Linked DNA regions of Homo sapiens: all the other regions are reported to be linked to region 1. Evidence: microRNA targets listed by miRTarBase, many of them from high-throughput screens and not tested one by one. Region 1 holds a microRNA gene; each other region holds the end of a gene's coding sequence.

Region 1 (4,131 bases):
CTCATAAGAAGGATAAACTAGGATAATGTATTTACAGCATTATCATAGTTTATCTATGATAATGACTAGCATTGTACTCAGTTAATGTTAGCTATGTATTATATATAATCGGTAGTAGTAGTATTGTTGTAACTAATGTTAGCTATACATTATAATTAACAGTAGTGTTAATTATTATTGTTGCTATTAATATCTCTTCGGTGTTATGCATGACTTCCAGCAGTAGGTGTAATCTTATCAACTTTCTTGTACATTAAAAGTGTTGGAGTGCAGGTGAACAAGATATTACTACAGGGAAAATTGTGGAGACCCTCGTTGACAGCTGAGGAAGTGATAACATCACTGAGGAGAAGAAGGCAAGCCTGTCCTTTCTAAGTCAGGCAGGAAGTTGCAGGGATGTGTGGTGAAACATGAAAGGAAAATGCGTTTATGATTTACATTCTTTTCCCTACTTAAGTGAGGTCCTGTCACCCTCACGGCTTTTCACAGTTCTGACATTAACTGCAACCCTGCGCGTGCCAGCCCATCAGTGAGGTCAGGCCTGCTTCCCTGCCCACTTGCTCCAGCACCAGTGACCCCGTCTGTGCTGTTGAACACACCGCCTTCATTCCTACCCCAGGACCTTACACTTGCTGCTCCCTCTGTCTGTCGCCTCTTCTTCTCATCCCTCAGGACTCAAATGTCACTCCACAGAGACTCCTTCTCTTCTACCTGATCAAAGTTAGGTCTCTGTTTATTTCCTTCCCAGCATTTTATCCAAGTTATTTGGTAACTTATTTATTGTCTCTTTTCTCCTGGCCACAGCAGAAGACTTCGTTGACTGACTAGAAGGACAAATCCCGACTCCCACTCCAATCGCATAGCAAAAGGGAATCCCAAGGGGAATTTTCGTAGGCTGAGCAGGGTGCATGGTGCATCAGAATTGCTGAGACATCTGAGGGCGCCCTTGAGGACAGGGACAGAATGAGAAACTTCATGAGGAAGTTAGCCCAAGTCTATGGCTGGAGAGATTTAGGAAGAGGCTCAGAGAGATGTCACATGAGGAAACTGCATTGTTTTACTGCATGGTATAGGATGTAACTCCCTCCTTCAATCTCTACAAAACCTTCAGAAAATCTTTCTTTTCTGTCAGTGCTTTTGGAGTTAGGTTTTTTTTTTCTAAATGCAACAATGCGCTGAGCCAGCCCTCAAGTTGGGCGTGGGGCAGAGAAACGTAGCTCCACAAGGAGGCCCAGCCTCAGTCGGGCGCAAGAGCACTGCAGTTCTGTTGGGTGACAGCAGTGTTTGTTTTGCCCACAGGCGTCAGACAGTGGCATCCCTCCCCTCTCGTCTTTGACGTCTGTCCGTGTCCATGTCACAGAGCAGAGCCACTATGCACCTTCTGCTCTCCCACTGGAGATCTTCATCACTGTTGGAGAGGATGAGTTCCAGGGTGGCATGGTGGGTAAGATCCATGCCACAGACCGAGACCCCCAGGACACGCTGACCTATAGCCTGGCAGAAGAGGAGACCCTGGGCAGGCACTTCTCAGTGGGTGCGCCTGATGGCAAGATTATCGCCGCCCAGGGCCTGCCTCGTGGCCACTACTCGTTCAACGTCACGGTCAGCGATGGGACCTTCACCACGACTGCTGGGGTCCATGTGTACGTGTGGCATGTGGGGCAGGAGGCTCTGCAGCAGGCCATGTGGATGGGCTTCTACCAGCTCACCCCCGAGGAGCTGGTGAGTGACCACTGGCGGAACCTGCAGAGGTTCCTCAGCCATAAGCTGGACATCAAACGGGCTAACATTCACTTGGCCAGCCTCCAGCCTGCAGAGGCCGTGGCTGGTGTGGATGTGCTCCTGGTCTTTGAGGGGCATTCTGGAACCTTCTACGAGTTTCAGGAGCTAGCATCCATCATCACTCACTCAGCCAAGGAGATGGAGCATTCAGTGGGGGTTCAGATGCGGTCAGCTATGCCCATGGTGCCCTGCCAGGGGCCAACCTGCCAGGGTCAAATCTGCCATAACACAGTGCATCTGGACCCCAAGGTTGGGCCCACGTACAGCACCGCCAGGCTCAGCATCCTAACCCCGCGGCACCACCTGCAGAGGAGCTGCTCCTGCAATGGTAAGTACTACATCTTCCCTAGGGACGAGCAGCACTGCTGGGCTCAGCCCGCCTGACTCTAAGCATGGAGATTCCACTGAGGCTCTGTGGGAGAGTTCAGGGAAGTTTTAATAAGCCCAAAGGCCACCAATCACCATAAGACGGCTAGTGGCCTCACAAAATCTAGTTATGGAATAATACCCAATTCTCAGCTCCCTTTCGAGATTTAGAAAATAACAGTAAGACTACAATATGTGGTTTAACATCATGGCTAAGAGCATAGGCTGTGGCTTCAGTCTTCATGGGTTAAAATCCCAGCTCTACCCCTTACTAACCAGGCGACTTTAGGAAAATTAACCTCTCTGTGCCTTTGAGCTGGGCTGCTGTAGGAATTACATCAGTACTATGTATCAAGTGCTTGCTTAGAACAGTGCCTGACATATAGAAAGTGGTCAATACATGTGAGTTACTAATACTGCTACTATTATTACCATAGTCTGGTGGTTATAAGCTCAAGGCTTAGACTCAGACAGCTCAGGTTCAAACCCTAGCTCCATCAGTCACTAGCTGTGTAACTTTGGGTGTATTGTTAAAACCCTCTGAGCTTTTTAGTTTCCCATCTATAAAATAGTCAAAATAAATACATCTGCCTCCTGGAGTTGGGTTCGGGGGGGAAATTACGTAAGAGTTATAAAAGCACTTAACCCATGGCTGGCCCACAATAAGCCCCAGATCAACGGTGACTGTCATTCCCGTGGTAGCAGTTGCTATAGGGAGCCTGCTGTACGCCACACTCTGTGTAGATGTCACCTAAACTAATCGGCACCACAGCCCTACCAAGCAGGGTCATTAGCCCCATCTGCAGTTGGAACTGAGATATGAGATTTAGTTTGCCTGAAATTGTACAGCTTCCAATGAAGGCCTCGTTATTCAAATATCTGTGTGTCCCACTCTAAAGCCTGAACTCTTCACTAAGCTCCTCAGGCACTCCAAGACTCACCCAGCATCCCTGGCATTAAGGCCAAGGGAGCAGCTCAGGAGCCTTGGCTAAAGGAAAGTGACATGACCTTCAGCTCACCAGCGCTCCTGCCTGGCCTGGCCTGACCTGCCCTTTATGGGTCCAGCTGCCTGGCATTCGGGATATCATTTCTCAGAAGATTTGTGGACTTTGTCCAGGGACCACTCGATTTAGGCTGGGTGGGCTTCTCTCTGTTGGGGAGAGGATTTCCTTCTCTGTGTTTCTTGCCCCAGGGCCTGCTTCAGGGAAAGCCAAGAAGGCTGAAGGGTCTCTCTCAGCCACCTGGCATCAGACAGCAGGGGTTCTAAAATTCAAGATTTTGCAAAGTCTACTGGAGAGCGTGATTTTAAAGAGACATGCTCCTGGGTGTCACCTCCAGAGGTTTTAATTTAGAAGGTTCTGAGTGAGTCCTAGAATTGGCATTTAATTCTGAAGCAGCAGGTGCAAGGGCTTGCATTGAAGAAATACTAGATAAACTCATGGATCACCAGAATCAGTTGAAAAGAGGTTTTTTATTTTTTAACATTTTAGTGAAATATAAAACATACAGGAAACCAATTCATGTATCATAAGTACACACCTCAAATAATTTTTATAAAGCAAATATATCTGTGTAGCCAACGCCCAGATCAAGGAAAGAATATGACCACCATCTCAGAAGCCTCCCTTGGGCCCCCCTTCCAGTTGTTACACCCATGATGGTAAGATTTTTAAAATACATATTTCCACGTGCCACCCAGAACTACTGAATCAGATTCTCCGAGAGAACTTAGGATTCTGTGTCATAAAGATTCTCCAGCTGATCCTGATATCCAGCCGGGGTGGGAATTTCTGATCTAGATCATCTTCAATATCCCATCCAATAAGTACCTACTACAATGGAATTGCCAGTGTCAGGGAATTTTGGACTTGTTTGGATTTTTGTTTTTGTTTTTGAGATGAAGTCTCGCTCTGTCACTCAGGCTGGAGTGCAGTGGCACGATCTTGGCTCACTGCAACTTCCACCTCCCAGGTTCAAGCAAGT
Region 2 (4,131 bases), not on the chromosome of region 1:
ATCTACAAAACAGCACTTAAAAGTCTCCTCTGGATTTCGCAACGAATGCTGAAGTTTATAGACTGGACGCTTAGTATATTACCATTAACCCAAATATAAAAATTGAAAAAAATAGCAATTCTGCACAACTCATTTCTACTAGCACTTATACATTACAGGCATACCTCAGAGATATTTCAGCCTTGGCTCCAGATCACCACAATAAAACAAACATTATAACAGATGAGCCACACATATTTTTTGATTTTCCAGTACGTGTAAAAGTTATGCTCACACTATATGTAGTATGTTAAATGTGTAATAGCATTATATCTAAAACATGTACATTCCTTCATTAAAAATGCTTTATTGCTAAAAAAGCTAACCATCATTTGAGCTTTCAGCAATTCATGATCTTTTTGCTGGTGGAGGGCCTTGCCTTGATGATGGCTGCCTGATCAGGGTGGTTGGGCACTGAGGGTTGGGATGGCCGTGACAATTTCTTAAAATAAAACAACAAGTTCGCTGCATTGATTGACTCTTCCTTTCGTGAAAGATTTCTCTGTAGCATGAAATGCTGTTTAATAACATTTTATTCACAGTAGAACTCATTTTTTTTTTTTTTTTTTTTTTGAGATGGAGGCTTGCTGTGTCCACCAGGCTGGAGTGCAGTGGCGCAGTCTTGGCTTACTGCAACCTCTGCCTCCTGGGTTCAAGTGATCCTTCTGCCTCAGCCTCCCAAGTAGCTGGGACTACAGGCACGTGCCACCACGCCTGGCTAATATGTTGGTATTTTTAGTAGAGAGGGGGTTTCACCATGTTGGCCAGGCTGGTCTCGAACTCCTTACCTCAGGTGCTCTGTCTGCCTTGGCCTCCCAAAGTGCTAGGACGACAGGCATGAGCCACTTCTCCCAGCCGAACTCATTTCAAAATAGGAGTCAATCCTCTTAAACCCTGCTGCTGCTTTATCAACTATGTTTACGTAATATTCTAAATCCTTTGTCATTTCAACAGTGTTCACAGCATCTGCAACAAGAGTTGATTGCAGCCAAGAAACCACTTTTTTGCTCATTTATAAGAAGCGACTCCTCATCCATTCAAGTGTGATCATGAGATTGCAGCAGTTCAGTTACATCTTCAGGCTCCACTTCTCATTCTCTTGCTGTACATCTGCATGACTTCCTTTACTCAAGTCTCGAATTCCTCAGAGTCATCCAAGAGGGTTGGAATTCACTTTTTCCAAACTCCTGTTAATGTTGATATTTTGATCTCCTCCCACGGATCCTGAATGTTCTTAATGGCATCTGGAATGCTGAATCCTTTCCAGAGGTTTTCTGTTTACTTTGCCCAGCTCCATCAGAGGAATCACTATCTATGGCAGCTATAGCCTTATGAAATGATTTTTTTCTTCCTTTCTTTTTTTTCTTTTTTCTCCCCTCCCCCAGCCTGAAATGTATTTCTTAAATAGTTAGATTTGAAAGTCACAATGACGCCTTGATCCATGGGCTTCGGCTGGATGTCGTGGTAGCAGGCGCGAAAACAATGCTAATCTCTTCGCACATCTCCAGCAGAGCTCTTGGGTAACATGGTGTATTGTCAATCAGCAGTAGTATTTTGAAAGGAATTTTTTTTTTTCCCAAGCAGTAGGTCTCAACAGTGGGCTTAAAATATACAGTAAACCATGCCGCAAACAGATGTGCTGCCAGCGAGGCTTTGTTGTTCCATTTATAGAGCTCAGACACAGCAGGTTTAGCATCAGTCTTCAGAGTCCTACGATTTTTGGGCCGGGCGTGGTGGCTCATGCCTGTAATCCCAGCACTTTGGGAGGCCGAGGCAGGCGGATCATGAGGTCAGGAGATCGAGACCATCCTGGCTAGCAGAGTGAAACCCCATCTCTACTAAAAAAATGCAAAAAATTAGCCGGGCGTGGTGGCAGGCACCTGTAATCTCAGCTACTGGGGAGGCTGAGGCAGGAGAATGGCATGAACCTGGGAGGCGGAGCTTGCAGTGAGCCGAGATTGCGCCACTGCACTCCAGCCTGGACGACAGAGCAAGACTCCGTCTCAAAAAAAAAACAAAAAACAAGAGTTTTAGGATTTTTGAAACAGTTAATGAGCTTTGGCTTTAACCCAAAGTCACCAGCTGTGTTAGCTCTTAAGAGAGTCAGGCTGTCCTTTGAAGCTTTGAAGCTAGGCATTCATTTCTCCCCTCTAGCTAGGAAAGTCCTAGATAGCATCTTCTTCCAATAGAAGGCTGTTTCAACTACACTGAAGATCCGTTGTTTAGTGTAGCCATCTTTGTCAATGATTTTAGCTACATCTTCTGGATAACTTGCTACAGCTTCCACATCAGCAACTTGCTGGTTCGCTTTCCACTTGTAGGTTTTAGAGCTGTCTTCTTTCCTTAAACCTTGTGAACCAACCTCTCCCAGCTTCCTGCAGCTTCCTCACCTCTCTCAGCCTTCACAGAATTGAAGAGAGTTAGGGCCTTGCTGTGGGTCATGCTTTGGCTTAATGTGTGGCTGGTTTGATCTTCTATCCAGACCACTAAAACTGTCTCCATATCAGCAATAAGGTTGTTTTGCTTTCTTATCATTTGTGTGTGTGCACTGGAGTAGAATTTTTAATTTTCTTCAAGATCCTTTTCTTTGAATTCACAACTTGGCTAACCAGTGCAAGAGGCCTAGCTTTCAGCCTGTCTCAGCTTTTGACATGCCTTCCTTACTAAGCTTAATTTCTAGAAGTATGACCCTTTCTTTCACTTGAACACACAGAGTCTGCTGTAGACTTATTAATTATTGTGTCTCAAGGAACAGGGAGGCCAGAGGACAGGGAGAGAGACAAGGAAATGGCCGGTCAGTAGAGCAGTTAGAACTCACACAACATTCACTAAGTTCGCAGTCTCACATGGGCACGATTCATGGTGCCCCAAAACACTTAACAACAGTAACATCAAAGGCCACTGATCACAGATCACCATAGCAGATATAATAAATAAATCATAAAAAAGCTTGAAATATTATCAAAGGGTGACACAGAGACAAGGAGTGAGCACATGCTGTTGGAAACATGGCACTGTTAGACTTTCTAGACACAGGGTTGCCAAAAACCTTCAATTTGGAAAAAAAGTACAAGTACAGTATCCGTGAAGTGTAGTAAGGCAAAGCACAATAAAACAAATAACTTTATATATATCTATTTCAATTTTATATTCTGAATACAAAGGCTGTTTATTAAGAATGTTGAGCTACCCAAGTATCATGTATAATAAACTATATAGAAATAGGAAACACTTCTTTGAATAAGCTACATACATAAAATATGATATCTTTAAAGATATATTAATTAATTTAAGAAATGTGCTTAGATGCCTACCGAATAAGGCACTGTGCTAGGAGCTATGTATGCAGTTGAATAAGGCACAACCCTACTCTTAAGGAGCTTACAGACTAGCAGAATTTGTAAGACACCGTGTAAGATGTAAGCTGGAAGTGATTTCTAATGTAAACAGCAGCGAATACTTTTTGCATTGAGCGTTAGTTTAGTTGTCTTTGCAAAAGCTTCTTTCTTTTCGTAATATGCGGCCTCATTCACAAACACGGGGTACACGGTACAGTCTCCGCCCAGTGGGATCGTCTTCCCATCAAGAGTTAAAAACATGGGATCCCCAGGATGCAGTGGTTTCCAGTCTTGATCCTCTCAGGAAACAATCAAAATAAATATATTATATTTGGTTTTTCTCCTCTAAAAATTTATGTCAGACTCTAGACAACTAACAAATTACAGTATTCTGTTGTTTTAAAAGAGATACTTGAGCGAGGCATTGAGATGCAGGCAAGTGATCTGACTGCGCTGACATTGGGTCGTGAATTTTGGCAGTAGTTTTAAGAGTTCCCCTTTGCATTTGTATAATTGAAACGTGTAATTAACATTTGCTTCAGCCAGGTGCAGTGGCTCCTTGCCTGTAATCCCAGCACTTGGGGAGGCCAATGTGGGTGGATCGCTTGAGCCTAGGAGTTCAAAACCAGCCTGGGCAACACAGAGATCCTATCTCTAGAAAAAATACGAAAAATTAGCTGGGTGTGGTGGTGCATGCCTGTAGTCCCAGATACTCAGGAGGCTGAGGTGGGAGGATTGCTCAAGCCCCCAGAGG
Region 3 (4,000 bases), not on the chromosome of region 1:
AATGCCACCGTGTTGAACACACTGGGGCAGGCTGTGGTTGACAGCTGCAGGCTTCTGCCAGCCTAGCATCCAAATTACTTCCTTATTGTGTTTCCTTGCTCAGTGTCAAACAATCCTGTCACAAAGATAAGAATTAGCAGATAGTAGAAGTTTTATAAGAGCCCATCATGCAGTACTGCAACAGCCTTCTATTAAAGTGAAAACAGGAGTGATAGGAATATATTTCGAAGTTGAATTTCTAACGATATCTGGCTGCAGGTGGGGAGGGTCATGTTGTTTTTAATTGCAAATACAGAAGTCAGACAAGAAGCACCAAGAACTTAAAATAAGCACTAACCCAGGCAAGCAATCTGTTGTATGGAATCAAAGAAAAATCAAGATCAGACATCTGAAATCTGTGAAGCACCGGTTTCGACCTCGGGGATTCCTCAGAAGAAGTTTGAGAAATCCTGCCCTTGATGCCTGCTTCCCTTCAGTGCTAAGCCAGCTCCTGGTCACTGCCCTCCTGGCTCCAGCAGAGGTCATGCCCCTTCTCGGTCCTCCCTTGGCACTCTCTGGAAAGTTCCACTGGGACACTGCCCAGACCTCGCATTAGACAGGAATGATGTTTACCCACTTATCTTGCCTCCCACAGGCGGGCGATGGTCTCACCTAGCGTGACCCTCAGGTGCCTCTGCTGAGCTGCCACAGGGTCCTGAATGTGTCCATTGAGGGCATCGGGGGCCTCAGATCCGAGTAAACCCTTGCTTAACTCTCAGCCGCCAACTGGAGGAGCCAAGCAACAGGGTATGGGAAATTAAGAACCATCTCAGCCAGGTGCAGGGGCTCATGCCTGTAATCCCAGCACTTTGGGAGGCCGAGGCGGGCAGATCACGAGGTCAAGAGATTGAGACCATCCTGGCCAACATGGTGAAACCCCGTCTCTACTAAAAATACAAAAATTAGCTGGGTGTGGTGGTGGGCGCCTGTAATCCCAGCTACTTGGGAGGCTGAGGCAGGAGAATCACTTGAACCTGGGAGGCGGAGGTTGCAGTGGGCTGAGATCGTGCCACTGCACTGCACTCCAGCCTGGCGAGAGAGAGAGACTCCGTCTCAAAAAAAAAAAAAAAAAGAAAGAACCGTCACAAGCCATATGCACATCTGCCCCACTTCCCTAAAGCACTGAGTCTGTTTTGGGCACCTTGCTTTGGGAAGTGCTGACTGCAATGATAATGACAGTGATGATAATAATGGCAGCTAAAACATGCTTATTATTTCAGGATTTCACAGGCACTTTGCTCAGCACTTAATCCTCATACCAACCCTATAAAGTATGTATTAATATTTTCCTTCCCACTCTGCATATGAGGGAAATGAGGCTTTAGAAAGGTCATCTTGCCCAAGTTCACATGGTTAGCTAAGTAGCAGAGCGGGGGCTGGAACCCAGATCTTGAACCCAAAACATCTAGGAGATGTGCCATGACATGCCAACAAGGCCTCCTTGAGCCAGGGAGACGCGGCAGCTTTCTGGACTTTTCAAGCAGGTGGAGCAGGTGGAGTGACTATGTGAAGAGGAATGGAGGGAAGTGGAGGCCCTGTGGAGGCCGTCCTCAACCCTGGCCGCCGACAGCCAACACAGCAGCTAGGAGGAACATCTTTGTAGCAAGAAAAAGAATGCACAGATCATGATCATCCACTGGGGAAAGAGTAAGCTCACTTTAACTCAGATTCCTGGACGTGCTCGGGGCCCAGGCCCTCTGATTGAGAAACACTGCCCCATGCCGGCCACCCAAGAGGTCACCCACATGCCAGGTACTGTGAGTGCACTTGGGGCACAAGTGCGAAGAGAAAGGCGGGACCCCCACCCTCCCGAGTTGAGCCTACTTGGGGCCAACCTACGCTGGGTCTCCTGGTCCCTCTCCTTGGTGGCAGAAATAGGTTTCCAACAGGCTCCAGTTTTGGCAAGACCTGCCTGTCCTGCCTGGTGGGCAGCTGGAACCTAGGGGCACAGGCTAGCGGTCATCACAATCACACAGCTCAGCACCAAAGAAAGCTGTCTCTACTTAGGGTTTGTCTCCCTCTGAATTTACTGACCACTCCTGCTTCCAAAAGAGCCTTGTGCAATGTGAAACTCTTTGGAGAAGTTGCTGAAGAAGAGCTATGAAGATGCCCTCATTGAATCCACTGTGCTTCCAGAATTAGAGACGGGAAGTAAGATAGACGGACTTCCCATGTGTCATTTAAATGTTATTTCTAACATATATTTTGGGAGTGACTGTCTTCTGATTATGCTCAATTGTGGGCTGAAGTGGGTGGCTCCATCTTTATTGCAAAGGCCGGGCCATGGGGTTGGCAGCAGCTGGAGGAGATGCTTCTTCCCCTGTCCTCAGCCAGAGCCTTCTCTGTCCCTGGCTTGGGTGGCTTGGGCGAGTCCTGTTCAGCCAGGACTACCCTGCAGATGGTTGTATGTGTCTGAGAGGTGGGCAAAGGCAGCCTGGGTCAGCCCACTCCAGGACACTCCCTGCCAGCCCCGGAGTGGACCAGGCTGCAGAACCCCACATCCCTGTCCCGGACAGAGTCAGCCCAGGGCAGGATTCTTGGCCACTGTGGTCTGGCTTGAGTGCCTTGGTTGTTAGGGGCTGGTAGTACAGCTAGCCCTGCTGCTGGGTGGCGTTGCTTCAGTAGAAGGGGATTCTGAAGGAGAATGGTCAGTGTTTATAAGACTGAAGCTGGAACAGAGCACAGAGAGAAGTCTCCCTTAATGCACGATTTTGAGACAATTCCCTGGCTTACAGACCAGGTCCAACTCCTCATTCTTTCAGGCGTTGGTCATCTAGCTACAACCTACTTTTCCAGCCTTGACCACAAACCCTGTGCCCCAGGCAATCTGGCCCAGCCAGGATACTGCAGACAGGCACGAGCTTTCTGTCTCTGGGCCCTTGCTTGGCTGTTTCCATGAACTCATCATTGACTGCACCCATGGGACCACTTCCTCCTCATCCTTTTGGGGACCCAATAAAAGGTCTGCTCCTTGGCAGTGCTGTTCATGGGTCCCCAGCAGAGTGAGACCCTCCCTCTGCTGCTCTCCTGTGGCCCTGTGCCCCTCCTGTGGCCGTCATCACCTCTTCTTTGTAGTGTCTTATTTACCCTATCAGGCTGGGAAGTCCCTGAAGGGAGACTCCCCATGCTCCCCACCCAGTGCCCAGCACACACTGCTTCTTCACACACAGGCCACTACGCATGCAGTGCACATGACTGGCATGACAGAGATGCTGTGGGCCCTCTCCGTTCTGAAGGCCTTGTTTGCAGAACAGCAGGAGGTCCTCCAGCAAGGTCACCTTAGTGCTCATTGCCTTCTTCCACCAAATCTGAAGGCGGGGGGATGAGGTCTCGGGGATTCATCCTGGCTACTAGGCAGACATCATAGCTGTCATGCATGAGGACGTTGATGGCTACAACATTCCACTGGTTTTCCCATGGGTCCAGTTCCAATATTTCTTTGGAGATAACCTCATGGCGATCTGAAAAACAGCAAAGTGGGAAGACAAAAATCTCATGTGGGTATTAAATTCAGAGGCCATCAGCACCATACTGAGTAACTTCCTCCAAAAGGCAATGTCTTAGTCCACTTGCTGTTACTGTTAACAGAATACCCAGGACTGGGTAGTTTATCAAGAAAAGACATTTACTTGGCTCACGATTCTGGTGGCTGGAGAGTTCAAGACTGGGGATCTGCATCTGGTGGGAGCCTTGGCTGTTTCAACTCATGGCAGAAAATGGAAGGGGAGTGGGCATTTGCAAAGAGGTCACTGGGACAGGGAAGGAGTAAAAGAGAGAAATCAAGAAAGCCAGACTGTTTTTTTTTTGAGACGGAGTCTTGCTCTGTCACCCAGGCTGGAGTGCACTGGTGCAATCTCGCTCACTGCAACCTCCGCCTCCCGGGTTCAAGCAATTCTCCCGCCTCACCCTCCTGAGTAGCTGGGATTACAGGCACATGCCACCATGCCTGGCTAATTTTTGT
Region 4 (4,131 bases), not on the chromosome of region 1:
TCTGCCTGACCTCATCTTCATGTTTTCTGATTCTTCTGGTGTATAAAAAAAAAAAAAAAAAAAAAAAGCTTACCTGTGGCTTAGAGATTTGGTTTTCCTGATGTCTACTGGTGTCATCAGTGGCTTGCTGGCATCTGATACTTATCTCTTTTCTTTTTTGGTAGAATGGATCTTCTAACCAAAGACGGAGATTTAATCCACAGTATCATAACAACAGGCTAAATGGGCCTGCCAAGTCGCAGGGCAGTGGGAATGAAGCCGAGCCACTGGGAAAGGGCAACAGCCGCCACGAACACAGAAGACAGCCGCACAACGGCTTCCGGCCCAAAAACAAAGGCGGTGCCAAAAATCAAGAGGCTTCCTTGGGGATGAAGACCCCCGAGGCCCCGGCCCATTCTGAAAAGCCCCGGCGAAGGCAGCACGCTGCAGACACCTCGGAGGCCAGGCCCTTCCGGGGTAGTGTCGGTAGGGTTTCACAGTGCAATCTCTGCCCCACGAGAATAGAAGTTTCCACAGATGCAGCAGTTCTCTCAGTCCCGGCTGTGACGTTGGTGGCCTGAGCTAGGAGGAAAAAGAGCAGTTTTCACTCAGTTTTGGTTCCCTGCCCGAGGTGCTGACCCAATTCGCTGCCAAAAGAGTGTCAATCAGAATATACAAATCCCGTATGGTTGTGTCATCCTCTCTTAATCATTTTTACTAATTCTAATAATCAGCTCTAGCTTGCTTCATAATTTTCATGGCTTTGCTTGATCTGTTGATGCTTTCTCTCATCAAGACTTTGCAGCATTTTAGCCAGGCAGTATTTACTCATTATTAGGAAAATCAAGATGTGGCTGAAGATCAGAGGCTCAGTTAGCAACCTGTGTTGTAGCAGTGATGTCAGTCCATTGATTGTCTTTAGAGAGTTAATGTTACAAAAAAGAATTCTTAATAATCAGACAAACATGATCTGCTGAGGACACATGCGCTTTTGTAGAATTTAACATCTGGTGTTTTTCTGAAAAAATATATATACATATATTGCTTTATTTGAAACAAATTAAAATATGCTGCATTTGACACCTGGCTAGTTTCTTTTATTGATACCCACCTAGTTATTGAATGTACTGTTTAGTGCTTTCAAAAAAAACTTTAGAGACTAGAGGTTGTGGTGCAAAGCTGTGTACAATAAATACTGTTTCTGTTGAGACAAGTACTCTTTCAGGAAAATATATATATGCCCTTTCAATTAGATTACACAAATAGATGGATATGCACCCTGATCATCTTAGACACACCATGTGGCAGTTGGGCAGTTGGAAACATTGGTTGCAAGTACTACAAACCTCAGCTGAGCCTAGCTTCAACAATAAGAATTTATTGGTTCAGTGAGTGAAAAGTCCAGTTGGTCCAATTTGATCAGGATTTCAGCTCCCATCTCTTTTTTTTTTTTCTTTTTTCTTTTTCTTTTTTTGAGACAGTCTTGCTTTGTCACCCAGGTGGAGTGCAATGGCATGATCTCGGCTCACTGCAACCTCCGCCTCCTGGGTTCAAGCCATTCTCCTGCCCGGCCTTCCGAGTAGCTGGGATTACAGGCATGTGCCACCACGCCCTGCTAATTTTTATATTATTAGTACAGACAGGATTTCACCATGTTGTCCAGGCTGGTCTCAAACCCCTGACCTCAGGTGATCCACCTGCTTTGGCCTCCGAAACTGCCGGAATTACAGGCATGAGCCACCGTACCCGGCCAGCTCCCATCTCTTAATTATCTTAGCTCTCCTTTCCTCCTTGGGTTGACATTGCATTCAGAATTGTGGCAAAGGGCCACCATGCTCTTAAGACTCAAGTCTATTTTCCACACTGTCCAGAGGAGAGAAGTTATCCTAGTAGCTTCTACACAGAGCAAGTGTCTTTCTCAGAAATCCCAGCAAAGGTCTTGCATACCATTGCTGGTAGGCCTGTCTCTTAAACCAATCATGAAAGGGGGGAGAGAAGTGAATGGGATGAACTAATTTGCATAGACTAATTAGAGCCCACCCCTGGAGCCTGGGTGTGGCCATCTTCCCAGAGTTCCTGAGCTAGATGGAGAAGGGGTACTTCTCAGAAAGGGAAAATGGATACCCAATGGCCCAAACCCAAAATAGCCCCAGTTCCCCTAACTTTGACTACAGGGCAGTCCAGTTTGGGTGCCGCTTCCGTTGCACTCACATGTCCTACATATCTGTTGACTACTCACAAGTGCAAATGCTTATTCTCAACTCAACATTAACATTTTTTCTGGCAACCCAGGTTCACTGGTTCTCTTCCACAGAGCGGCCCTGAGCAGCTGAGCCTGCAAGCCACGCAAGCATCTGTTTCTTCTTTTGCCAAGTACAGGAGGATGTTTGCTCTCTCTGTAGAGAGCTTTCTGAGGTCTCTGGGTGTACCCAGAGATTTAATAGAAATTCTTAACGTTAAGTCACATTCCAGGAAGGAAGGAAGAGTTGTTCGTTCAAATAAGAAAGATAAATGTTCGGCACTGTAGGCCCTGTTTACCCCATCTGAGGCCCTGAATTCATATATTACAAGACGGAAGGATTTTGCACAGTTTTTTATGTAGCAAGATTTTGCTCACCACTGAAAAATGTCAGTGTAAATGTGACCGCTTTAAAGATGAGTCAAGTAATTCTTGGAACAGGGAAAAAAATGAATTTGCCAGGTCAGGAGTTCACCTGCCTTTGTCAGAGTTGAACCCAACCACTCTTGACCTCGACTCACTCCCTTAGGGTTAAGAAAGCCCAAACACATTCCTGAGCACAGAGCAAACACTCCCATGTCACTGAAAAGAAACAAAAGAATGCTAAAAAGTGCTCAGACCTGATCACATTTTTTCCAATATTTTTTCCTTTTTTTTTTTTTTTTTGAGACAGGGTCTTGCTCTATCACCTAGGCTGGAGTGCATGTTTTTGAGACAGGGTCTTGCTCTATCACCTAGGCTGGAGTGCATGATCATGGCTCACTATAGCCTTGAACTCCTGGGCTCAAGCCATCCTCAGCCTCCCAAGTTGCGAGGACTACAGGTGTGCACCACAACGTCCCAGCTACTTTTTAAATTTTTAGTAGAAACGAGGTCTCACTATGGTGCCCAGACTGGTCTCGAACTCCGGAGCTCAAGTGATCTTCCTGCTTTGGCCTCCCAAAGTGTTAGAATTACAGGCATGAGCCACCTCGCCTGGCTGGTTTTTGCCTTTCTTATAGACCCTGGGCATGTAAGCATTTATTAGTTTGCATTTTTGAAACAGTAATTTCAATATTTTAGTGCCAATGTCAGGCCGCTTAAACACTGTATTACATATCTTCATCTGTCTGGTGGAACTATTGGTGTGATCCTAGAGAACTGAGTCCTATTCTGCCATTCATTTAAAGTGTTTTAAACTCTAATCTCTCTACTTAATGCACAGTAGTCAGATTATTCTCTTAAACATTTGCCTAGTAGAGGTTAAAATAGTTTAATCCTTATGAAGATGGAATAACTTCAAACTCACATTGTGGCACTTAGATCTTCCACCAAGACTTCATCCGTGAAATCCACACCTCCCTGTTGGGTTCCCAATTACATTCCAAATTTACATTTCTTTTGAGAATCTCTGCATACTCCAGCTCTGTCCTGTTGATCCTATTCTAGAAGTGCTTAATGCAGCAAGACACAGAAAGTTAAACGCAAATTGCTGCAAAATTCACCCTCAGTGGAGGACTAGAAACACAACATGTCCAATTTAAAGCTCAGTTCACAAGCAGTTCAATTCTGCTGGCATCAGAAAAGGAGATTCTAATTAAACATTCTTAGGGAAGGACATCAAATGAGGTTAATGGGAAACGTTACCAGATTAAAAGCAGTTTTTTGACAAAGTAACAGATTTGGAAATTCTGACTCTCTGAAAGCCTTGATTTGAACCTCAAACTTGATTTCACCATGAGAAGTGGGGATCAAGGGCCTGCGCAGTTCTTTTCCTAAATCGATTCGGTGCTCCCCACCCCGACGCAGGCACAGGTCCGCAACCAGATAGGGAGATGCCTGAATTTCAGGCTACCTTTGACAAAGCTTTCTTCCTCCCTCCCTCCCTTTGCACGCTGCATCCCACGCTGCCTGCTTAAAGCGCCCTCATGTGT
Region 5 (4,000 bases), not on the chromosome of region 1:
TTTAAGCCCCCTGACCCAGATAATACATTTTTAAGCAGATTAAATGAATTTTTAGCGGGAGAGGGCATGACAGTGGGTGAGTTGAGCAGAGCTCTTGGACATGAAAATGGCTCCTTAGACCCAGAGCAGGGCATGATCCCGGAAATGTGGGCCCCTATGTTGGCACAGGCATTAGAGGCTCTTCAGCCTGCCCTGCAATGCTTGAAGTATAAAAAGCTGAGAGTGTTCTCGGGCAGGGAGTCTCCAGAACCAGGAGAAGAAGAATTTGGACGCTGGATGTTTCATACTACTCAGATGATAAAGGCGTGGCAGGTGCCAGATGTAGAGAAGAGAAGGCGATTGCTAGAGAGCCTTCGAGGCCCAGCACTTGATGTTATTCGTGTCCTCAAGATAAACAATCCTTTAATTACTGTCGATGAATGTCTGCAGGCTCTTGAGGAGGTATTTGGGGTTACAGATAATCCTAGGGAGTTGCAGGTCAAATATCTAACCACTTACCAGAAGGATGAGGAAAAGTTGTCGGCTTATGTACTAAGGCTGGAGCCTTTGTTACAGAAGCTGGTACAGAGAGGAGCAATTGAGAGAGATGCTGTGAATCAGGCCCGCCTAGACCAAGTCATTGCTGGGGCAGTCCACAAAACAATTCGCAGAGAGCTTAATCTGCCAGAGGATGGCCCAGCCCCTGGTTTCTTGCAGTTATTGGTACTAATAAAGGATTATGAGGCAGCTGAGGAGGAGGAGGCCCTTCTCCAGGCAATATTGGAAGGTAATTTCACCTGAGTCTCAGGGAACCACGAAGGGATATGGCAATGAGTAGAGCATGAAGGTAGAACAGTCTATATACTCTTGTGACACATACAATCCCTACCTTGTGCTGCCAAGTAACTCATTTTTGTGCAATTCTCAGTATAAGCCCTTTGTCGTTTCTGTGCCTATTTAAAGTCTCCTAAAGGTGTAATTGACTAGGAAGGATGTAGTTCTACACTGCCATTTACCTATTTAAATTCATCCTTGTGAATATCTTTGTTGTTGTTGTTGAGACAGAGTCTCGCTCTGTCACCCAGGCTGGAGTGCAGTGGCGTGATCTTGGCTCACTGCATCCTCCGCCTTCCAGGTTTAAGCTATTCTCCTGCCTCAGTTGCCCGAGTAGCTGGGACTACAGGCATGTGCCACCACGCCCAGCTAAGTTTTGCATTATCAGTAGAGACGGGGTTTCACCATGTTGGCCAGGCTAGTTTCGAACTCCTGACCTCAAGTGATCCACCTGCTTCGGCCTCTGAAAGTGCTGGGATTACAGGCGTGAGACACTGCGCCCAGCCTCATCCCTGTGAATTTCTTATTGTACACAAGTTCTTTCACTATCTGTGTGCAGTGCTCTGAGGGGACAGACAAGGCTTGGGTGTATATGCCAACCAGATCTCATTGAAGTATCAGCTTGTTTGGTACTAGGTGCAAGTGTAGCATGTCACATGTGACCATGTTGGATCATTGACAATTTTTAGGTATGTACTGACCTACATTTATGATGAAGATCCTGAGCGGAGGTTAAGATATTAAGTTATTTTCCATATGAATCAGAATTATATTGATTCTGTGCAATCAAAACAAAAGGCAGAATAGAATGCTGAGATTGGTTAAGTTTGCAATGACCATCTTGAACCACAGATTTCTGCTATGTGTCATCAAAACATCTAGTTCTGAGTAACATTTTCACGATTGTTATAAAATTATAGGTGTGAACTTCTAAAATAAAGGAATGCTAATAAAATGACTTTGTCTGTTTTGTTTATATCACGGTTCCAAGAGAGATTTCATTTGAATAAAGAGTTCCCAAAGCATGAATCTGCAAACCACTGAACCTACACAGACTTAGTTCCTTGGACTCTTTCCTCTTGGTGCTCAGGGGTAGGAAATTGTTTTCTAAGTGAAGGGACCTTCTACCGAAGCAGTAAAACAATGGGATGAAACAAGACAGTGCACAAATTAGTGCGAGTAGTGCAGATGTATCAGTGTGTCAAATTTGGAAGGAGAAGGAAAGAAATGAACATTGCATGCTGCTGCTTGGAAGATTGGACTAAAAGTTTCTCCATGTACTTTCCCATTTAATCCTCTTGAAAAAAGGTTGAGCAGTATAATCTTAGCACTTTGAGAGGCTGAGGCAGGAAGATCGCTTGAACCCAGGAGTTCGAGACCAGCCTGGGCAACATAGTAAGTACAAAACATTTTTAAAAACTAGCCAGGCATGGTGGTGTGCGCCTGCAGACCCTGCTACTCAGGAGGCTGAAGCTGGAGGACTGCCTGAGGCCAGGAAGTCAAGGCTGCAGCAAGCCATGATCATACCACTGCACTCCAACCGGGTGACAGAGCAAGACCCTGTCTAAAAAAAAATAATAATTAATTTAAAAAATTCCTGCGGTATAGGAAAACTCAGTTTCACACTTGTGGAAATGGGCACAAAAGGTTAGAAATTTGGTCAAGGGCTGGGCGCAGTGGCTCATGCCTGTAATCCCTGCACTTTGGGAGGCCGAGGCGGGCGGATCACGAGGTCAGGAGATAGAGACCATCCTGGCTAACGGTGAAACCCCGTCTCTACTGAAAACACAAAAAATTAGCTGGGCGTGGTGGCGGGTGCCTGTAGTCCCAGCTACTCAGGAGGCTGAGGCAAAAGAATCACTTGAACCCAGGAGGCGGAGGTTACAGTGAGCCAAGATAGTGCCACTGCACTCCAGCCTGGGCAAAGCGAGACTCCGTCTCAAAAAAAAAAAAAAAAAAGAAATTTGGTCAAGGTGAAACATCCTTGGGCCAGAATTCTATCCTCTGTAGTAAGTGTAGTGAGCGATTAGGCCAGAATTCTTGTCTTTCTGCAAGGCCCATGTTCTTTCTACTGCCAAGAAAGAGAAACAATCATCAGGGTATCTATACCGAATAGCCTCACAAGGGAGGCAGGGCAGGCATTGGCTCCATTTCATAAGTGTCCATCTTATGTGCATTGGAGGGGAGTACAGTTGACCCTTGAACAACTTGGGGCTTAGGGGAGCCAGCCCACTGCACAATCTGCACATAACTTTTGATTCCTCAAAAACTTTACTATTACTGACAGGAGGCCTTACCAATAACAGAAAGTTGGTTAACATATTTTGTATGTTATTTGTATTATATACTATATTAAAGTAAGCTAAAGAAAAAATGTTCTTAAGAAAATTATATGGCCATATGCAGTGGTTCACACCTGCAATCCCAGCACTTTGGGAGGTCAAGGCGGGTGGATCACTTGAGTTCAGCAGTTTGAGACCAACCTGGCCAACATGGTGAAACCCCATCTGTACTAAAAATACAAAAATTAGCTGGGTATGGTGGCATGCACCTGTAATCCCAGCTACTTGGGAGGCTGAGGCAGGAGAAACGCTTGAACCTGGGAGGCGGAGGTTGCAGTGAGCTGAGATGGCACCACTGCACTCCAGCCTGGGCAACAGAGCGAGACTGTGTCTCAAAAAAAAGGAAGCAAATCATAAGATAAACTATATTTACAATTCATTAAAGAAGTGGATCATCATAAAGGCCTTCATCCTGGTTGTCATCTTCACATTGAGCAGGCTGAGGGGGAAAGGGAGGGTTGGTCTTGCTGTCTCAGTGGTGGCAGAGACGGAAGAAAATCTGTGGATAAGTGGACCTGTGTAGTTCAAGCTCCTGTTGCTCAAGAGTCAGCTGCACGTTATTCTGAATCAGAGTCCTACTGCAAATTAAACACTTAGCAGTGGAGAATATGAGACTCTATAAGACCTGGGCAGGTGGCATGGGTTATCTTTTACCTAAAAAAAAAAAAAAAAAAAAAATGAAGCATGGTTGACAATTGCTGAAAGGTAGGATAAAGCCTTTCATAAAAGTACCCAAATTTGGGATGTACACCCTGGTTTTAGATTCAAAGGCATAGTATAATGTTTGTGTTATGACTAAATGTCATGATTAAGTTCCCGTAAGTTCTTCTACGATGGAAAGAGAA
Region 6 (4,131 bases), not on the chromosome of region 1:
CCGCTTTTTTTTCCTGTTCATCTTCCCCCTCCTCCTTTTCCAAAACCCCCTACGAGCCGGAAATTTCTCCGCCTCCGGGGAGCGTCCAGCCAATCCGGCGTCAGTTCCATGTGATGTCACGGGTTGCCAGGCAGACTGCCACTGCGCTCCCGCGAGCCCCGCTAAGTTGGGGAGGGGCCCAGGCCTGCAGTGCCGCGGCCACCTGAAGCCTCGCGTCCCTCGCTGCCAGCCCGAGGGCTCAATTCAGAGGGAAGGGGACAGACACCCAGACGGAAGGGGAAGCGGGGAGGAGGTGGAGAACTTCAGTTGGCAGGAATAGAGGAAGACATAAACGGAACCCTCTGTGCCTGCGCGTCAAGCCTCTTATTTCTCGGCATTAAGGTTCAGATAGGTTTTGCTGTATGGTGTCTTTGTGATTTGTTTGTTTGTTTTTGAGACAGGGTCTCGCCGTGTCTGGAGTGCAGGGGCACGATCACGGCTCACTGCAGCCTCAACTTCCTGTGCTCAAGTGACCCTCCCACCTCAGTAGTTCGGAGTAGCTGGAATTACAGGCATACGCCACCACACCCCGCTAATTTTTTATTTTTTTTGTAGACGGGTGGGAAGGGGATCTCACTATCTTGCCCAGGCTGGTTTCAAACTCCTGTACTCAAGCGATCCTCCTGCCTTGGCCCCCCAAAGTGTTGGGATTACAGAGCCACCGCGCCAGCATATAATTCTCTCTTTGAACTCCTCTCATCATCACCCGTGATGTCACGGTGTCTCTGAGAGCCAGCGGCCTCAGTGGAGGGGCAGGATTGCAGTCCCTGACAAAAGGTCCCAGGAGGTTTGTCTACGTCGATGCATCTTATTTTATTCCACATTTAGGGTGACAATGATAGCTTTTGTAAAAAGTACCTTCCCCGTTGCAGGGGGCCCTGGGGAGGACGTTTTACCTGCCCTTCCTCCCTCCCCCTTCCCACTCATTCTCTTAAGGGCAGGTCCCAGCCTGGGCTCTGCCATCAGCTGCTGTGTGCCTCCACATGGACTTCTCGTGTCTCTAGGTCATTGGCATTCCTTCCTCCTCCTCCTCCTGGGAGTGGGGTGGATTTCAGGCGGTGTCAAAGGCTCAACGGGGCTGCAACAGTTTTTTTTTTTTGAGACGGAGTTTCGCTCTTGTCGCCCAGGCTGGTGTGCAGTGGTGTGATCTCAGCTCACTACAACCTCCGCCTCCCAGGTTCAAGCGATTCTCCTGCCTCAGCCTCCCAAGTAGCTGGGAGTACAGGCACATGCCACCACGCCCAGCTAATTTTGTATTTTTAGTAGAGAAGGGGCTTCACTATGTTGGTCAGGCTGGTCTTGAACTCCTACCTCAGGTGATCCACCTGCATCGGCCTCCCAAAGTGCTGGGATTACAGGCGTGAGCCACCGCACTGGGCTGGAAAGTCTTTTTGAGATCTTCCTCCTCCTTCTCTCCCTTTTTCACAGAAGGGACAAACTAAGGTTGGGAAGCAGCAAGTCATGCACCCTAGATCCACCTGCCCACCCAGGCTCAAGGACCTCTGGCCTCTTGGCCCGCAGCCTTTGACTCCCTGGGGGTCCCAACCAGGGCTCCATAGTCCACCCAGGCTTCAGTTCCAGCTGGGTTTATACAGTGGTCTAAAGCCAACAGGCTTGAGAAGCTGCTAGGGTGAGATAGCCAGGGATGGCAGCGACTGGGGCAGATTGGAGAACAAATGCCTCATTAGGAAAGGCTACTGTCCTGTTCCAGCTCCCCACCCCCCACCGAAAACTGGCCGACTCTCTCCAGACCGTCCAAAGTTTTAAGTGAAGGCAGAAATCTGGATTATGCAAAGTCTCCCTATTTTGAATGGTCTGCTGTTTTTGTTGTTTTTATTTTCAGACGGAGTCTCGCTCTGTCCCCCAGGCTGGAGTGCAGTGGCACAATCTAGGCTCACTGCAACCTCTGCCTCCCACGTTCAAGCGATTCTCTTGCCTCAGCCTCCCGAGTAGCTGGGACTACAGGCACGTGCCACCACGCCCAGCTAATTTCTGTATTTTTAGTAGAGACAGGGTTTCACCATGTTGGCCAGGATGGTCTCGATCTCTCGACCTCGTGATCCGCCTGCCTCGGCCTCCCAAAGTGCTGGGACAACAGGCATGAGCCACCGTGCCCGGCCTTGTTTTTGTTTTTAAGACGGTGTCTCACTCTGTCGCCCAGGCTGGAGTGCAGTGGCACGATTACAGCTCACTACAGCCTCCTACTTCCTGGGCTCAAGAGATCCTCCCACCTCAGCCTCCTGAGCAGCTGGGACCACAGGTGTTCACCCCCACGCTCGGCTAATTGTTTTTGTTATGTTTTGTAGAGACGAGGTCTCATTATGTTGCCCAGGCTGGTCTTGAATGCCTGGGTTCAAGCCATTCCCCCTGCCTCGCCTCCCAAAGTGCTGGGATTACAGGTGTGAGCCATTGCCCAGCTGATGGCCTGCTGTTAATGTGGATCCCTCACACCTCCACCACCAAGTGCTACAGTGCACTAAAGAGACCACCACCAGCGACCGGGGCCTCGGTTGGGGGGCAGGGGGGTGACGACCTTGAGACTTCTGGTTAGAAATGACATGGGTGGGGAGCTGCCATGATCACCCAAAATCAGTCGCGTGGCCAGAGTGGTCTTCAGCATGGCCATAGGGAGTGGCACTAGGAAGGGTAGGATCCCCATGAGAACTCAGTCTTTGTGGGGTCCCTGAAAGGGCATATCAGATGGAGAGCCTAGGAGGTCTCAGATGTGATTGGAGGATCCCAGATATAACAAGGGTGTCCCTGACAGGGCCCAGACATGACACATTTCACTGACTCCCCATCCTCCACCCCAGACCTCTCAAGAGTGATTTCAGACATGACAAAAGGATCTTGGAGGAGCCCTAGATGTGATTGGGGAACTCCAGACACATAAAAAGGGGCAGCAGAATAGTTCCAGAGAATTGGGGGATCTCAAAAATGAGGGGACAGATGTGACAACACAGCCATAGATGGGCGAAGAGATCTGAGATGATAACAGCTCCCAGAGGGCCCCAGACATAACTAGGAAATCTCAGATCTGACAAGAGGGAACCTTGGACAGGGCTCAGGGTTGCCAGCAGGGCCCCCACCCCAGATGAGATTCAGGGTTTACAGACACACAGCGATCTTAAAAACGTCCCAGGCCTCACTGGGGAATCAGATATCACAAGAAAATCCCAGAGAAGCTCTTGGGATTCTGGAAGAACTGCTACCCTGCCTCCCCGAGTATAGTGGTCCATAGGTCCTGTCACCCAAAACATGAGGATCCCAGGGAGTCTGTACATGACAAAGAAATCCCAGAGGACCCCAGGCACAAGTGGGGAATCCCAGACAGGCCCGGGCTGGGCTTGGGGATTATGGCAGGGCAGCACTCCCCTTACCCCAAAAGGTGGGGATGCGTAAGTCCTATCACCTAGAGTGTGGGGACGCCCTTTTTCTTCCAGGGGGATCCTGGCTGGGACGTGAGGTCCCCCAGCGGCTCCGCAGGTGGGAGCCTCGGGTGTGCTCAGGCCCGGCGGACTGCAGGCAGCAGCGCGCTGTCGAACTGGTAGGTGAGCTTGCGCTTGACCTTGCGGATCTCGCCGGTCTTGGCGTAGTTTCGGAGGGCGCGCGCCAGCTTCTGGTAGGTCATGCGCTTGCGGTTCCCCTTCTGCTGGCCCCAGCGGCGCGCCAGGAGTTCCTTGTGCTTGGAGGAGAACTGGAAGACGCCGGCGCCTGGCTCCACCCACCACACGCACTCACGCATGTCCCCGCGCGTCAGTAGCCCCAGCAGGAACTGGTACAGGCGCAGCTTCTTGCGAGTCCCTGCGGTGGGGTCGGGGGCACGCGTTAGGTGAGGGGTCCCTAAGGCCCCGCCTTCCCCATCCACCCTCCTCCGAGACTTCCACCCCGGCCTCCATCTCCTGGATCTGAAAAGTGGGGTGAGGGAAGTGGCTGTTACATACACCTGGCTCTGCGCCCCTCACCACGGGGGGGGGGGGGGGCAAGCCACTCCCCCTGCCCGAAGCTGTCAGCCCCAGGCCCCCTCCGCGTTCTGTGCTTTAATTTTCGAGATTTACATCTGTCCTGCCTTCCGCCCTGCGGCCAGCACGT

The links. Region 1 holds the annotated microRNA hsa-miR-6499-3p (AGCAGUGUUUGUUUUGCCCACA, at 1,277-1,298, shown strand). A microRNA usually pairs through its seed, bases 2 to 8, with sites in the 3' UTR of a target mRNA and lowers its output. Matches are read on the target gene's strand: a 7mer-m8 pairs with bases 2 to 8, a 7mer-A1 pairs with bases 2 to 7 and ends in A, and an 8mer does both.
Region 2: the mRNA of ASPA is a reported target of hsa-miR-6499-3p. Seed matches in the 3' UTR shown: 7mer-A1 at 1,983-1,989 and 7mer-A1 at 647-653.
Region 3: miRTarBase lists KBTBD12 as a target of hsa-miR-6499-3p. Seed matches in the 3' UTR shown: 7mer-A1 at 3,221-3,227 and 7mer-A1 at 1,029-1,035.
Region 4: miRTarBase lists SPATS2L as a target of hsa-miR-6499-3p. Seed matches in the 3' UTR shown: 7mer-A1 at 1,506-1,512.
Region 5: miRTarBase lists MOAP1 as a target of hsa-miR-6499-3p. Seed matches in the 3' UTR shown: 7mer-m8 at 982-988, 7mer-A1 at 1,093-1,099 and 7mer-m8 at 1,305-1,311.
Region 6: miRTarBase lists SPIB as a target of hsa-miR-6499-3p. Seed matches in the 3' UTR shown: 7mer-A1 at 2,208-2,214, 7mer-A1 at 1,914-1,920 and 7mer-A1 at 1,174-1,180.

Annotation. Positions count from the first base shown.
Region 1 is chr5:151,519,255-151,523,385 of GRCh38, reverse strand. MIR6499 (microRNA 6499) reads left to right here and starts at 1,238; the gene lies at 1,238-1,299. FAT2 (FAT atypical cadherin 2) reads left to right here. Exons shown (of 24, transcript NM_001447.3): 19 at 1,300-2,110. It also overlaps a transcript of SLC36A1 not described here. RefSeq lists enhancers at 1,233-1,402, 3,088-3,257.
Region 2 is chr17:3,498,434-3,502,564 of GRCh38, reverse strand. It overlaps ASPA (aspartoacylase), which reads right to left. Exons shown (of 6, transcript NM_000049.4): 6 at 1-3,674. The coding sequence ends at 3,477. It also overlaps a transcript of SPATA22 not described here. Among named protein-coding and RNA genes, the nearest start is that of ASPA, 25 kb to the right of the region's middle.
Region 3 is chr3:127,983,597-127,987,596 of GRCh38, reverse strand. It overlaps KBTBD12 (kelch repeat and BTB domain containing 12), which reads right to left. Exons shown (of 6, transcript NM_207335.4): 6 at 1-3,500. The coding sequence ends at 3,319. Among named protein-coding and RNA genes, the nearest start is that of SEC61A1, 67 kb to the left of the region's middle.
Region 4 is chr2:200,477,472-200,481,602 of GRCh38, forward strand. SPATS2L (spermatogenesis associated serine rich 2 like) reads left to right here. Exons shown (of 13, transcript NM_001100423.2): 13 at 165-4,131. The coding sequence ends at 560. It overlaps LOC101927741 (a long non-coding RNA gene), which reads right to left and starts at 502. Exons shown (of 7, transcript XR_007088047.1): 1 at 74-502.
Region 5 is chr14:93,179,967-93,183,966 of GRCh38, reverse strand. It overlaps MOAP1 (modulator of apoptosis 1), which reads left to right. Exons shown (of 3, transcript NM_022151.5): 3 at 1-1,768. The coding sequence ends at 780. Among named protein-coding and RNA genes, the nearest start is that of MOAP1, 2.9 kb to the left of the region's middle.
Region 6 is chr19:50,427,750-50,431,880 of GRCh38, reverse strand. It overlaps SPIB (Spi-B transcription factor), which reads right to left. Exons shown (of 6, transcript NM_003121.5): 6 at 567-3,843. The coding sequence ends at 3,545. Among named protein-coding and RNA genes, the nearest start is that of MYBPC2, 3.1 kb to the left of the region's middle. RefSeq lists enhancers at 3,233-3,522, 3,078-3,650, 3,651-4,131.